2 separate regions of the Homo sapiens genome follow, and region 1 is linked to region 2. The links come from fine-mapping of genetic effects on gene expression. Tissue or cell type: whole blood. Region 2 holds a variant in brackets; the other region holds the start of a gene. All regions are shown on one strand. Distances are from middle to middle.

Evidence for each region. PIP is the estimated chance that this variant, and not a neighbour inherited with it, causes the effect.
Region 1: it holds the start of LDAH, and the variant in region 2 is fine-mapped to the expression of LDAH in whole blood (INTERVAL, PIP above 0.99).

Annotation. Positions count from the first base shown.
Region 1 is chr2:20,819,137-20,827,244 of GRCh38, reverse strand. It overlaps LDAH (lipid droplet associated hydrolase), which reads left to right and starts at 4,144. Exons shown (of 7, transcript NM_021925.4): 1 at 4,144-4,208. RefSeq lists enhancers at 3,961-4,350, 4,571-4,640, 4,443-5,268.
Region 2 is chr2:20,681,647-20,689,754 of GRCh38, reverse strand. It overlaps LDAH (lipid droplet associated hydrolase), which reads left to right. Exons shown (of 7, transcript NM_021925.4): 7 at 2,661-5,724. The coding sequence ends at 2,852. Among named protein-coding and RNA genes, the nearest start is that of GDF7, 19 kb to the right of the region's middle. The variant C/G (reference allele first, on the strand shown) is at 4,929.

The DNA of each region.
Region 1 (8,108 bases), 140 kb before region 2:
AGGCAGGAAGATAGCTTGAGCCCAGAAGTTCAAGGTTACAGTGAAAAATGAAAATGAAATTAAATAAAATAAAATGTATAAATTACCCAGTTTTAGGTATTCTGTTATAAGCAACAGTAAATGGGCTAAGACAGAAAATTGGTACTGGGTTTGAATATTTGTCCCCTCCAAAACTCATTGTTGTAGTCTGTTTGTGTTGCTTTATAGGAATACCTGAGGTTATGTAATTTATAAAGAAAAGAGGTTTGTTTGGCTCATACCTCTGTAGGCTGTACCAGAAGCACGGTGCTGGCATCTGCCTCTGGTGAAGACCTCAGGCTGCTTCTATTTATGGTGGAAAATGAAGGAGAACTGGTATGTAGAAACTGCACAGCAATAGAAAGCAAGAGAGAGAAGGGAGGGGGTGCCAGCTCTTTTAGCAACCAGCTCTCATTGGAAGCAACAGAGCAAGAACTCATTCACTCTTGCGAGCATGGCACCAAGCCATTATGAGGGATCCATACCCACAACCCACAACCCAGACACTACCCACCAGGCCCCATCTCCAATACTGGGGACCACATTTCAATCTGAGACTTGGTGGGGGCCAAAACAAACCATATCCAAACCATAGCATTCATGTTGAAATTTATTTCATTTTAAATAATGTGTTTTGTTTTTTATTTTTGTGGGTACATAGTAAGTGTATATATTTATGAGCTCATGTTAAAATTTAATCCCCAAAGGGGAGTATTAAAAGATGGGACCTTTATGGGGTGATTGAATCAGGAGGGCTCGGCCCTCATGGATAGATTAATTCCTTCATAGATTAATGGATCAATAGGTTAATGAATTAGATTAAGGGGTATCATGTGAGGGGAACTGGTGGCTTTCCAAGAAAAGAAAGAGAAACCTGAGCTAGCACACTCAGCCTCCTGGACAAGTGAGGCCCTGTGCTGCCTTAAGACTCTTCAGAGAGTCTTTCACCAGGTATAGCCCCTCGACCTGGGACTTCTCAGCCTCCATAACTGTAAGAAATAATTTTTTCTTTACAAATTAGCCAGTTTCTGGTATTCTACTATAAGCAACAGAAAATGGACTAGGACAAGACCTGAGCTGAGCCAATCAGAAATTCTTCCCCGGGTATTAGGAATTAAAATCGAAAGAGGGAGAAAAAAGAATCTCTGTGTGGCTGTCCCTCTGCATCAATCTGGACAGGCTGTGTGGCACTGTGGTAAGAAACAACAGCAACAACCTCCAAAGCCTTAAGCAACAAAGGTTTATTTCTTATCACAATATGTGTTGCTATGGTTTGGATATAGTTTGTCCCCAAAAAGACTCATGCTGAAATTTGGTCCCCAGTGTGGTGATGTTCAGAAGTGGGGCCTATGGGGAGGTGTTGGGGTCATGGGGTGGATCCCTCATGAAGAGATTGTTGCTGTTCTCGCCAAAGTCAGTTCTTGTTCTGAGACACAGCAGAGACCCCTCTTAAGGGCTTGCAGGGCACTCTCCACCAAAAGATGAAAATAAAAAAAAATCTTGACTTCCTTAAAGAAAATTCCAGACATCTAGCTAGTCCTAAAAACAAAAACAAAAACAAAACAAACTTAAAAGCAAGAAGATAATAAGAGCTTAAAACAATAGCCAAAAAATTAATGTCACGGGATATTGTATTTCCTATAAAAACTAAAGGTAACATCTTAACATATGTCCCAAGTTGTTTTTCAGAAACCCAGATCCCCACTAAATGGATCCACTGGCACACAGGCCTCAAATAAGGGAGAATTGAAGGCTAAACTCTGACTACTATTCTTTGTTCTAAATTTCTTCTTGAGGTGCTTAAAGGAGGCCATGCCCATGAGCCCAAGCTAATATCCTTTTCTGCTGATATCAAATTTTTAGAGAGTTTCACCTTCTTAACAAATCACAAATCAGAAAATCCTTAAATTCCACCTATGACCTGTGGGCCCCCCTCTTTGAGATGCCCCGCCAATGCACGGCAGGCAAGCCCCAAATTGGGGATTTGCCCAGTAGAGTTCTTAGCTTCGCCAAGAAAGAATTCAAGGGTGAGCCGGTGGTGTTAAATAGCAACTTTTACTGAAGTAGTAGTGTCCAGAAGCAGCAGAGATACTGCTCCTTGCAGAGCAGGGCTACCCCATAGGCAGTGTGTCCAGAGTAGCATCTGAAAGGCAGTTCTTCTGTCATATTTATAATCATTTTTAATTACAGGCAAATTAAGGGGTGAATTATGCAGAAATTTCTAGGAAAAGGGTGGTAACCTCTGGGTTGTCAGGTTGTTGCCATGGAAAGGGGCATTAATATGGAAAGCTGCTTCCTCCCTGCCCCTGTTTTAGCTAGTCCTCAATTTGGTCTGGTGTCCAATTCCTGCATCCTACCTCACTGCATTTTTAGGTTAAGCCAATATATAACCTCCATATATTGATTTATGACTTTGCCTATAACCTCTGACACCCCTGCATTTAAAAACCCTTACCTATAAACAATTAGGGAGTTCAAGACTTAAGCACTAACTGACCAGTTCTCCTTGCTTGGGACCCTACAATAAATGCCTCACTTTCTTTCACTATAATCCTGATGTCAGTGTTTGGTCTTGCTGCACAGGCAATTGGACTCCAGTTTGGTTTGATAACAGCTCTTGAGAGATTGGAAAAGAGAGAGTCCCTGAGAGAGTGGGTTGTTTTCCACCTCCTGTTTGGTCTGTTTTCACATGTATCAGCTTCCCCTTTGACCTTCTACCATGTTGTGACACTGCACAAAAAACTCTAACCAGAACTGAGCAGATGCTCACACTATGCCCCTTGAGCTTTCCAATGTGCAGAACCATGAGCTAAGTAAACCTCTTTTTTAAATCCAAGCATACTTTGAAGATATTGGGGGTTCAGTTCCATACTACCACAATAAAGCAAACATCACAATAAGGCAGTTCACAGAATTTTTTTGGTTTCCCAGTGCATATAAAATTTATATTTACACTGTACTGTAGATTATTGTGTACAACAGTATTATGTCTAAAAAAAGTACATACTAAGAAAAGAAAAATAGCCCAGAGCTGTCTGAGCTATGTGAGGTATGCAAAATTTATTAGACCCGGACAGAAGTGAATACTGGCTTCCGCCACGCCTTCCCATGCCTTAGGGCAATTGTTAAAGGCATTTTGTTCTTTATTAGCTGCCTCACCCATTATCTTTATGTTCCTGGAATTTGTGATACAAGGAAGAAAGCATAGCCAGTCAATAGCTTAAGTTTTTTAAATATAAATTCTTGGTAAACAAGTTAAGCTCTGCCTCCTCTCCTTTCCTTAAAAACCGGCTCACGCCTGTAATCCCAGCACTTTGGGAGGCCGAGGCGGGTGGATCATGAGGTCAGGAGATCGAGACCATCCTGGCTAACAAGGTGAAACCCCGTCTCTACTAAAAATACAAAAAATTAGCCGGGCGCGGTGGCGGGCGCCTGTAGTCCCAGCTACTCGGGAGGCTGAGGCAGGAGAATGGCGTGAACCCGGGAAGCGGAGCTTTCAGTGAGCCGAGATTGCGCCACTGCGGTCCGCAGTCCGGCCTGGGCGACAGAGCAAGACTCCGTCTCAAAAAAAAAAAAAAAAAAAAAAAAAAACCTACTCCGACTGCTGCTAATTGGAGTGTATATTCAAGGCAACTTGAATCTAAGCTCCTGAGTGGCCATTCTCAAGCACTGAGCCCAAATAAACTCTATACTTAATATTATTCTCTGAATTTTCTTAAAGTTGGCAACACCTTAATTAAAAAAATACTTTATTGATCATGCTTATGAACATGATCAAATGAGAATCAACTTTCCTGTGTATGTGGGGAAGATATGCAACTAGTAACGCAGAAAGAGGGAAATGGGAAGAGGGAGAAAAGAGGGGCAGACATGGAACAAATGAGAGAGAAGGAAAGGGAAGCCAGAAGCCAGAAGCACATCAAGGATGACAGAAAATAAAAGGCGGATAAAATTCAAATGAAAAAGAAAGGAAAACCCCGACACCCTCCAAGAGGTCTCTCTGATCTGGACCACCGGCTCCAAGCCAGTAAGAAATCTCCCAGCCAGCTGTGCGCCGCGCGCCAGGCTGACATCGGCTTCCCGGATCAGCTCCGGCGCGGTACTGTGACGTCACCTGAGGGGGGCACTTCCGGTCTCGTGCCGCCTTCCCAGGACCCTCAGGGAGAGCGGGCAGCCTTCCAGGTGGACAGGTGAGGTACAGCTTGCCGAGCTCAGGGTGACTGCCCAAAGGAAGGACGGGTGGGCAGGCACGCGGGATCTGGCGCCCCTTCTTCTCTATGGTTCCTCGCAGAGCCCCTGTTGCCCTGGGCCAGATGGCCCGTAGCAGCAAAAATAATACTGTTCCGACAGCTCGCGAGTTCGGAGCCACTTGGCCTGGGAGTCCCTTGAGTTGCAGGCCGGGCAGTCGCTCACCCGAGCGCGGTAATGCAGCATTTGAACCCCTAAGTGTAGCCCACCTGTAGGGAGTCTTATGGTGCCCCCGCGGAGGAGTAGAGGCCAAAAAGTTGGGCAGCTGGCCGGGAAGAACTCGCTAGGAGGGGTCAAACTCTGGGCCGGGAGTGTTCTTTGCCCCCGGCGTTTAGTGCTCACGCCGCCTTTTATTCACGCTGAAGACCTTAACCGTAAACCCTCATCCTTGGGTCTTAGTTTGGTTTTGTTCCCCACGCAAGACAGAATGCAGATTGGAACACTTTATTCCTTGGTTAATTCGTATCTTCCCTCGCAAGTAGTTACCGGACACCTGCTTTGTGTCCTGTGTACCAAACACAAGAGTTGATAGTCCTGGCCGGGCGCCGTGGCTCACGCCTGTAATCCCAGCACTTTGGGACCCCGAGGCGGGCGGATCAGGAGGTCAGGAGATCGAGACCATCCTGGCTAACACGGTGAAACCCCATCTTTACTAAAAATACAAAAATAAATACATAAATAAATAAATTAGCCGGGCGTGGTGGCGGGCGCCTGTAGTCCCAGCTACTCGGGAGACTGAAGCAGGAGAATGGCGTGAACCCGGGAGGTGGAGCTTGCAGTGAGCCGAGATGGCGCCACTGCACTCTAGCCTGGGCGACAAAGTGAGACTCAGTCTCAAAAAAAAAAAAAGAGTTGATAGTCCTTGAGTTGAAAGAACAAATCTGTATGGAGAAAGAGATACAACCAAAAGAAACCCAGAAGATTTAGAAGCATCTCCAGAATGTTTATTCTCAAAAGCTGTTTTTTAATTAAACTTCTTTCTGAAACTATACGTAGGAGTGTCTCTTGTGTGTTTCCCCATTTTTCCACCTGAAGGTTAAAGACTTAGAAACCTGCTAAGGCCCCTCTTTCCAGCATGTAGCATTCTAGGGGGATAATCAGGGCAACACAGTGGGTGCCCATCTAAAATTTTATATTTTAATATTTTGCTTTTTGATAACTTAATGCCTTCAGACTGGAGGATTTTTTCTTTCTTTTTTTTAATTTTTTTAAAATTATACTTTAAGTTCTAGGGTACATATGCACAACGTGCAGGTTTGTTACATATGTATACATGTGCCATGTTGGTGTGCTGCACCCATTAACTTGTCATTTACATTAGGTATATCTCCTAATGCTATCCCTCCCCACTCACCCCACCCCACAACAGGCCCCGGTGTGTGATCTCCCCCTTCCTGTGTCCAAGTGTTCTCATTGTTCAATTCCCACCTATGAGTGAGAACATGTGGTGTTTGGTTTTTTGTCCTTGCGATAGTTTGCTGAGAATGATGGTTTCCAGCTTCATCCATGTCCCTACAAAGGACATGAACTCATTCTTTTTTATGGCTGCATAGTATCCCATGGTGTATATGTGCCACATTTTCTTAATCCAGTCTATCATTGTTGGACGTTTGGGTTGGTTCCAAGTCTTTGCTATTGTAAGTAGTGCTGCAATAAACATACATGTGCATGTGTCTTTATAGCAGCATGATTTATATTCCTTTGGGTATATACCCAGTAATGGGATGGCTGGGTCAAATGGTATTTCTAGTTCTAGATCCCTGAGGAATCGCCACACTGACTTCCACAATGGTTGAGCTAGTTTACAGTCCCACCAACAGTGTAAAAGTGTTCCTGTTTCTCCACATCTTCTCCAGCACCTGTTGTTTCCTGACTTTTTAATGATCACCATTCTAACTGCTGTGAGAAGATGTCTCATTGTAGTTTTGATTTGCATTTCTCTGATGGCCAGTGATGATGAGCATTTTTTCATGTGTTTTTTGTCTGCATAAATGTCTTCTTTTGAGAAGTGTCTGTTCATATCCTTCACCCACTTTTTGATGGGGTTGTTTGTTTTTTTCTTGTAAATTTGTTTGAGTTCTTTGTAGATTCTGGATATTAGCCCTTTGTCAGATGAGTAGGTTGCAAAAATTTTCTCCCATTCTGTAGGTTGCCTGTTCACTCTGATGGTAGTTTCTTTTGCTGTGCAGAAGCTCTTTAGTTAAATTAGATCCCATTTGTCAATTTTGGCTTTTGTTGCCATTGCTTTTGGTGTTTTAGACATGAAGTCCTTGCCCATGCCTATGTCCTGAATGGTATTGCCTAGGTTTTCTTCTAGGGTTTTTATGGTTTTAGGTCTAACATTTAAGTCTTTAATCCATCTTGAATTAATTTTTGTATAAGGTGTAAGGAAGGGATCCAGTTTCAGCTTTCTACATATGGCTAGCCAGTTTTCCCAGCACCATTTGTTAAGTAGGGAATCCTTTCCCCATTTCTTGTTTTTGTCAGGTTTGTCAAAGATCAGATAGTTGTAGATGTGTGGTATTATTTCTGAGGGCTCTGTTCTGTTCCATTGATCTATATCTCTGTTTTGGTACCAGTACCATGCTGTTTTGGTTACTGTAGCCTTGTAGTATAGTTTGAAGTCAGGTAGCGTGATGCCTCCAGCTTTGTTCTTTTTGCTTAGGACTGACTTGGCAATGCAGGCTCTTTTTTGGTTCCATATGAACTTTAAAGTAGTTTTTTCCAATTCCATGAAGAAAGTCATTGGTAGCTTGATGGGGATGGCATTGAATCTATAAATTACCTTGGGCAGTATGGCCATTTTCACAATATTGATTCTTCCTATCCATGAGCATGGAATGTTCTTCCATTTGTTTGTGTCCTCTTTTATTTCATTGAGCAGTGGTTTGTAGTTCTCCTTGAAGAGGTCCTTCACATCCCTTGTAAGTTGGATTCCTAGGTATTTTGTTCTCTTTGAAGCAATTGTGAATGGGAGTTCACTCATGATTTGGCTCTCTGTTTGTCTGTTATTGGTGTATAAGAATGCTTGTGATTTTTGCACATTGATTTTGTATCTTGAGACTTTGCTGAAGTTGCTTATCAGCTTAAGGAGATTTTGGGCTGAGACGATGGGGTTTTCTGAATATACAATCATGTCATCTGCAAACAGGGACAATTTGACTTCCTCTTTTCCTAATTGAATACCCTTTATTTCTTTCTGCTGCCTAATTGCCCTGGCCAGAACTTCCAACACTATGTTGAATAGGAGTGGTGAGAGAGGGCATCCCTGTCTTGTGCCAGTTTTCAAAGGGAATGCTTCCAGTTTTTGCCCATTCAGTATGATATTGGCTGTGGGTTTGTCATAAATAGCTCTTATTATTTTGGGATACGTCCCATCAATATCTATTGAGAGTTTTTAGCATGAAGAGCTGTTGAATCTTGTCAAAGGCCTTTTCTGCATCTATTGAGATAATCATGTGGTTTTTGTCTTTGGTTCTGTTTATATGCTGGATTACGTTTATTGATTTGCGAGGACTTTTTTCTTTGTTAAAATGTTGCTCTGCTTTCAGCATTTTCTCCCTTGTAGTATTACCATAATGTATTTAAGATTGAGCACTTAATTCTGAAGTCACTTTAAGTATACCTCAACCAAAGGGAAATTAATATATTATTTCTAATGAGTGTATTTAATATAGGTAAGTAGTTTGTACACTTGTGAAATTCTTGGCATTAATTGATGTCCAGAAGCTGAAAGCTACTCTCTGGTACATTAAAAAAAAATTGTGTGTGTAATTACAAGAAAGTTTGATGTCACAGTTGCAAAGGAGTTGTGCAAAACAAATTGCCTTTTTCCAGTAAAG
Region 2 (8,108 bases):
CCCTGCTCTGAGGAAGTGCTGAGTAACTGCATAGCGACTGTTCCCTATCCTATTCCCTGAATACAATCGAAAAGATTGCTGGTGGTAAATATAGGGAGTAGCTTAGAGAGAGCCTAATGTTATCAGCACTATTGGTAGATAATTAATACCTGCAAATAGTTTGTACTCTTGACAGTATTTCAAGGCAAAGCTATAGCAGGGTAGTTGCTGAGAGATCCGGGGAAACGTGTTTTTCTACTAGTGGAAAGAATAGTCTCCCACTGGTTGTGAGGTTGCAGCATTTTAGAGCTACAGAAAGAGCTGAGACCAGGAGGAAGAACTAGGCAACTGCTAGGCTCTCATATTCTCTAGGAAGCAAAAGAAGTTCTTACTCTGCTAAGAACCATGGCAAAATGAATTCTGGCTTTAGGGGCTTTGGAATGCCCAGAAATGGTTGGAGTGAGGAAAAGTAGGAGAATGCAAAGAATGAATTAAGTGATAAATCTGTAAGTTGCAGGTCCTCTGCAGCGTGCAAAACTGGAACCCCAGGTAACAACCAAGAAAACCTCCATGAAGCTGGAATACTATGCAGTCATAAAAAAGGATGAGTTCATGTCCTTTGCAGGGACATGGATGAAGCTGGAAACCATCATTCTCAGCAAACTGACACAGGAACAGAAAACCAGACATGGCATGTTCTCACTCATAAGTGGGAGTTGAACAATGAGAACACATGGACACAGGGAGGGGAACATCACACACCGGGGCCTGTTAGGGGATGGGGGGTAGGGGAGGGATAGCATTAGGAGAAATACCTAATGTAGATGACGGGTTGATGGGTACAGCAAACCACCGTGGCACGTGTATACCTATGTAACAAACCTGCACACTCTGCACATGTCCCAGAATTTGAAGTATAATTAAAAAAAAAAAAAAAAAAAAAAAAAGGAAACCTCCATGAAGCAATTCAGAGTAAGTCTGCCACTTGAGGTTTACTTGTTCATAATTTACTCTCTGGAGTACTATGTTAAATTTTTTCCTCTATAAAGTGTTTTTAACTAACCATCTAAATATTGGTTAAGGCATCATGTTATTGTAATGAAGGCCATTGTTTTCGTAAGATCAGTCTCATCTGTCCCATATTCAGGTCATGGATTTAATAATTGATACACTCAAACTATCCAGTGAGCAATAACGCCTGCTTCCCTGCACTCTCCTCCCCCAGCACTTGATCACCTCCAATCCTTCTTCTCGTTGTGGCCAGAGTGGTTTTCCTGACATAGGGACCTCAGCATGTCACTTCACTGTGCAGTCTTTTTTGCCTTGTGGACTTCGGGATAAAGCGCAACCTCCTTGGCATGCATAGAAGATGCTGTCCATGACCTCATCCCTCTCTGCCTCTCCAGTCTTATCTCCCACCACCCTATATTCCAGCCATGTGGAATTCCAGTTCCCCACACATGCCATGCTCTTTCAAGCTTTGGTTTGCTTGGTCTTCTCCCCACAGTGTGCTGCCCCAGCTTGAAGACTCAACTGAGGCATCAACTCTGGGGAATCTTTCCTGCCTACTACTTCTGACCAGCTGCACCTCACCTGAGCTCTCAAATTGTCTTGTATACATGGGGTCCCCTTCTCCCCTCCCCCCAAGACTGTCTTATCTCTATTTTCCAGGTTCCTAATACAAAGTAGGTGCTCCATTTGTATTTGATGAACAAAGGAATGAGTAAGCAATTCAGTGTCTGAATGAAGGAGCACATTTGGTATATTAGGGAAGCTGCAAGTGACTACAGCTGGCCAACTAGGGGCTGGAGCTAGGCATAGCTCTGTCTTTCAGTGATAACAGAGGTCAAAGGATCCTTAAGATTTAGTTCTTGGTTTTTGTAGAAATTGCCACTATCTGTTCTTCTGAATATAAGATGTTGCTTTGTTGCCTTTATTTTTAGAACTAACAGAACTAGAACATAGCAGTTTTTCAGTGAAACACAGCAGCCTAGAGCAATATACATATATATCACATGCAGGTTTAGGTAGATATCCATTCAGGGTCTTAGTAATGCCACAGAGGAGGCTCTGTCTCCATTCAGCTGCTTGCTGTCAATTGAAGTATGATTATTGCACTTCCCCACTGAATCAACATACAGGCTGCATAGAGCCTTTTCTTAGAAAGGTCATAAACTCTCTCAGGATTCTGATCACATTTCATCAGCTACATTGGAAAGCCTGAGTCTATCTGATCTGTGTTTGTATTCATTCAACAAATACATCCCATATGACTACCATGTGGCTATTTGGAAACAACTAAGTTTATTAACTGGTCACTAGTCATTCAGTGACTATGTCTCAATAACTGTCTTCGTCATCCTCACCGGCCTTCATTCCAGTGTCCATCCCAACCTTAGTACACAAAACTTTCCTGGTAAGTCGTTTCAGTGAATTATGAGTGATCTATCACACAAGAGTCTCCCAGCATGGGGATCTTCCCACCAAATTCTTCTAAGTGCACTCCTGTACATCGTGAAGCCTTGCTGCCTTGAGAGAGCCACACTCTGGAGAGAGCTTAGGGACTAGCTCCCAGGGTCAGGCGTAGGTGCTGTCCTCAGAGCACTGCCGGCTGCTGGTGTCATATCTGTGTCAGGAAGGGAACGTGTTTTCTAATAAAAGGTTTTTGTCTTGTCTTTCAGCTTACATTTTATTATGGTACTATAGATCCTTGGTGTCCAAAAGAGTACTATGAAGACATTAAGAAGGATTTTCCAGAAGGAGACATTCGACTCTGTGAGAAAAACATACCTCATGCTTTCATCACCCATTTTAACCAGGAAATGGCAGACATGATTGCTGACTCCCTAAAGGATGACTTGTCCAAAATGTAAATTGGCCTGAGGAACAAGCCCCCACTGCCAGTACATGGAGGCAGTCAGTGTACTAGACTTAGTAGGTAAATGTTTAATTTTGAAGACTGATATTAGAAATGAAGAAAGTGAGAACCTTTGTCTTACAAACCAACTCTCCGCTCGCCATGTTATAGGCTGAAGTAAACACAGTTGATGAATCATTCCATAGGTTTAACCATACATTTTCCAAGACTCAGGGAACACAGTGATCTACACAGAGTCTTGTGTTTGCACAAGATGCCCAGTGGCACCATATGGTTTATTTTGGTAGGCAGGATCTTTGCAGATGAAAAAAAAATCTACATGTACTTGATTTTAATTGAGTTACATTGTAGAATAGGCTCCTCTGGAGGAAATTATGAAATACCTACTAGAAAATGTAAAATAAATCAGTGAATGTTAAGAGTATAGTTAGATATGTGAAGTGTATGAGATTATGACAAGGATACACTCATGTTCCAGGAGCAGGAAGTGAACCTGGGTCTCCTGTAAGACAGAAGATGAAGATGAGCCCAGGCTAACTTAGCACAGATCTTGGCTGAGATCATCAATGTGACGTCTAATGTACCTGCACTAGACAGAGAATAAAGTTCACCAGACATTACTCTGGTCAGCTAACCAGATAAAGAATTGTTGAAGGACCCCAACTGTGCCTCCTGCCACAGGACAACCAGCAAGTTCTATGCTGAGCCTTAGCCTCCCAGGTTATAAGCTCCCTGCAGGCTCCTCCTCTCCAGAGCCAGGATGGAGAGGCACTGGGCTGTCCCAAAGCAGGCTTGGATGTGCCAACGTACAGTTGCTCCTTCTGTAATTCTTGCACTAAAACTCCATTAAAGACCATCAATGAGCCAAATAGTGTGCTAGCCATTGAGGATGGAGTTCTTAGCTACTTAATGATTCTTTTCTTCTGGAAATCTTCTAGTGAATAATTTTTAAAAGCTTCTTTTAAACTGCTCAGTAAAACATTGCCATACATTAACTCTCCATTTCTGCATTAACTTCATTTGCTGGAAAGAAATTATTTTGTTAATGAACCAAACCCAGCCATTAAGTTATGTGAATTCACCTTCTCTAGACACATTGAGGTATGGCAGAGAAGACACATATTCCCTGGCCTAGAGTGGGCTGACAATATTGCTGCCTCCCCTAAATTGACTCAATCTTGAGAACCACATACTGCAGTGACAGTTGATCATGGATCAGAAATATTCCTTTTTCTCCTAGAGGAAATCCCTCATGGCATTATCATTCCCTAAGGACAATGAGATGTCCCTCCGCTCAAATCCTAAAGCCCCCTGATGAAAGATTTGGCTCTGATTTGCTGCCAACTTATTGGTAAGTGCTGAATGAGTTACTGTGCTTTGGCATAGCTTCTACATCACAGCAAGTGACTTCTCAGAGGGGAAAAGCCAAGCTCCAGACAAGGAGTGCTGTTAGCCCAAGGGGAAGAGCTAATAGATACATAGGCCGTAAGCACAGGGCTGTACACAGATCCTTTATTGGCATCTGCATGAGAGGCCTAGAAATCGGATGTTAGAAGCTAGGAATCATGGCTCTGAGCGCCTTGCATACAGGAGATACTCACTGATACTAAATCAAGGCATGTAAACAATACTGGGTAAATCATACCTACCAGAATAAAGAGTAACATTCAGAGCTTTTCTTTTATCTGTTATTTTAAATGTTACTCCATATTTCAAAAGTCTGCACGTATGAAATTGTGTCTTATTTCTGGTTTTTAGAGCCTAAGAAAGATACTCATTCTTAATTCCTATTTATCATCTGAAAACCAAATGAATTTTTGAAATAAATGTTTTACCAGCATTTCTGACCTGGTCTGGCCTGATCTCTGTGTTGGGCAAGAGAGGGTACAATTTGAGCAGTTCTCCTGAGTTAGACTCGGCTCAAAGTCTCTCTTTTAAAGTGAAAAGCCACCTTTCTCATTGCTTTTTTCATAGGTGGAAGAATCAGATTTCAAGAGACTGAAGTTCATTCTGTTTCATTAGGGATTAGACTAAAATGGACAAACAGTGGAAGAAATCCATTTTCCAGAAG[C/G]AGCTCTGCCTGTATGTCCCAGTCAACCACATGGATGGTCTTTGTGAAAGTTTTAACTTCCTGCAGAGTTACCGAGTGCTCAGCGATTGAGCTTTGACCACACCCGTGTTTGTTCCTAGTCTGTTCCCAGCCATAAGCATCTCCACAAGCCCTCTGTGGCTTGTGTGGCCTGATGTCCATGGCCACCAAGGGCCTCTCACCATACGCTTCTCCACTCAACCTTTGGAGAGACACGGACCACCAAAGGCTTGATTTTTCTTCATCCTACATTATATTCAAAACAAACAGGCTGGGTGCCGTAGCTCACACCTGTGATCCCAGCACCTTGGGAGGATGAGCTGGGAAGATCGTTTGAGGCTAGGAGTTTGAGACCAGCCCGTGCAAAAAACGAGACCTCGTGTCTAAAATAATTTTTAAAAAAGAGCAAAAAAAAAAAGCAATTTCAGATTAAAGGAGACTGAAGAGACATGACAATTGGACACAACATCTGATTCTGAATTGGATGTTTTTGTTATAAAAGACATTGTTGAGACAATTTGCACAACTTGAATGAGGTCTGAAGATTAGCTGGGAGTAAGATGCCACTGTTAATTTTCTGATTTCAGTGGTTGTACTGGGAAGAAGTAAGAGAGTGTCCTTGTTTGTACTGGAGACACTGAGGTATCTGGGGGTGAGGGGCATCATGTCTGTTTACTGTCAGATGGTTGAGGGGAAAATAATGTTCTTTGTACTTGCAGATTTTTTGGAAGTTTGAGATGTTTTAGAATTTGTAAAAATAATTATTTTTAAAACCCCACCATGCTATCTCCTGCATCCGTGTCTCATTGCTTCTTTTCCAAAAAGGCTATTTCCTCTTGTACGCAGTAAATGAAGACCTGGGTTCAAATCCCAGATCTGTCATTTGTTAGGTTTGTGACATAAGACTTCACTTCACCTCCCTGAGTCCCCCAGCTCCTCATTTTTTTTTTAATGGAGATAAAATGAGGTCATGCATATAGCATTTAGTATGTTGCCTGGCATATGGTGGATTCTCTATAAAATGGTACCTAAAGGAGGATAGCAAACTTGTTTTTCCTTTTTTCCTTTCATTTCTCTTCTCTTTAGTGTAGCAGAGGACCCTGTGGTATCTCAGTCCCTGCACTGTTTCACCAGGCTTGTAACTTGATTCTAGCAGTCAGCATTTTGGCTCTTACGCAGGGATAACACTTGCTCACCTGGCTCAGCTTTCTGGCCTCAGCCCATTCAGGCCTCCCTGCACACAGCCCAGGATGTTCTAACAGTCGATTTAGAAAAGATGCGGGAAGCAAAGCATTTCTTAGATGGCTTGAGACATCTTCATCCCTGGCCTTCTCTTGCAGAAGAGAAGAGGCAAGGATATATTTGGGCTGCTCCTTCCCTTAGGGGTGGGCCTTAAGGAGAGGTTGGAGGCTGGGACTGAGTGTGCTCTGTGAACAAATACATCTGTGGGACCTTGAATGAAGCTCTTCTGCAGGAGTGCTGAGGACAGCAAAGCTCATATGAGTGTTCTTCTAATCACTTTTTAAGAGGATTGAGATTCCTGCCTGTGCCCCATACAGACATGGGTAAGTGATCACATTGGCCCAGGTGAGGAGTGTCTGTGGGACATGGGTCTGGCCTCTCCCACCAGGCTGAAGGCATCTCTAGAGCAAGACCGGCGTCACTGAGTGTGATGCTGGGTGAGCATCCTCAGAGCACGAACGAGGGTCAAAGAAAGCTCTGGGTGGTTCTATGGTTCTATAAAGGGTTCTATAAAGACAAAGCTCTTGGAAGAGAGAAGAGGATGAGGTTGCCCCTAGTCCTAGAAGGGCAGGTAGAACTTGGATAGGTGGTTTGGAATAGATGAGAGCTAATCCAGATAAGGAGTATGCTGCTCACCCCAGCACCTTCACAGTGTCTCACTTAGGCCTCCCAATCCTGTGATGTTCTGACTATGCCCATTATACAGATTACCACTGAGGTGCCTTGCTAAGGACCTCACAGTTAATAGATGACAGAGCTGGGGTTCTCCTGTAGTTGCACATGTCCTCCAAAGTTCGTGTGTTAGAGACTTAATCCCCAATGCAACTATTGGGAGGTGGGTCCTAACAGGAAGTGTCTGAGTCATGAGGGCCCTTCCTTCCTGAATGGATTAATGCCAGTGATAAAAAGCCACAATATTAGGCTGCAAGTTTGATCTCTTGTTCTCTCATGCTCTCTTGCCCTTCCACCTTTTGCCAGGGAGGATGTAGCACAAAGGTCCTCACCAGATGCCAGCCCCTCAATCTTGGACTTTCCAGCCTCCAGAACTGTAAGAAATAAATCTCTTCTTTATAAATTACCCAGTCTCTGATATTCCATTATAGCAACAGAAAATGAACTAAGCCAGATTCCAATTCAGGCCTCTACTCCAGAGCCACCACTTCATCCCCTTTTTCCACTGCATCATGCTGCCTCCTGGAGGCCACAGTGGGCAAGCCTAGCAAAAGTGGAGAGCCGGGAAAGAGAGTCACGCAAAGGGCAAATGAGGACCCGATTGACAGAAGAAGTGACGAGTAGATCGTTGGTAACAAATGAGTAGTTTTAAAAGAATGAAAGCTATAACAGAGACCAGTTTTCAGACGGCAAAAATATGCATCAGGCAGTGGATTGAGAGAAAGCAAGCCCACATGCTGGGAGTCAGTGCTGTGGCTGCAGCCACATGGCCGGCACCTCTGCAACTCTTCCATAGCCACCTGGTCTTATGCCACGCACGGGAGCTTCCTGTGGACTCCTCTGTACAGGAATCACTGCTCCAGCTTTGATTACGCCCATCCTCTACCCCACCCCATGAGACGTGGCCTAAAATACCAACTGCTCCTGCCTCCCAGAGCGGTCCTTCCCACCCTTCCATGCCCTGCCAGTCTTCATGACCCCTGGCCTGGCCTGTGTCTACTGAATGACTTATCATTGCTGCGGGATTGTGTCTCTGCAGTCTGCTCCTCCCTGCCTCCACCAACACCCCTTCTCTCAGGAGAGTCCTAGAAGATGACCTTCTGTCTTAGTCATCTCTGTGCTGTCAGGGCATATCAAATATGGCCTGCTACACAGGGTAGTCTATAAATTTTGTTATCTAAATTAATAAAAAGTTTCTACCATACCTAATAGGCAAGCTGTGAAAAAGTGCAATTCTCACATTGGGTC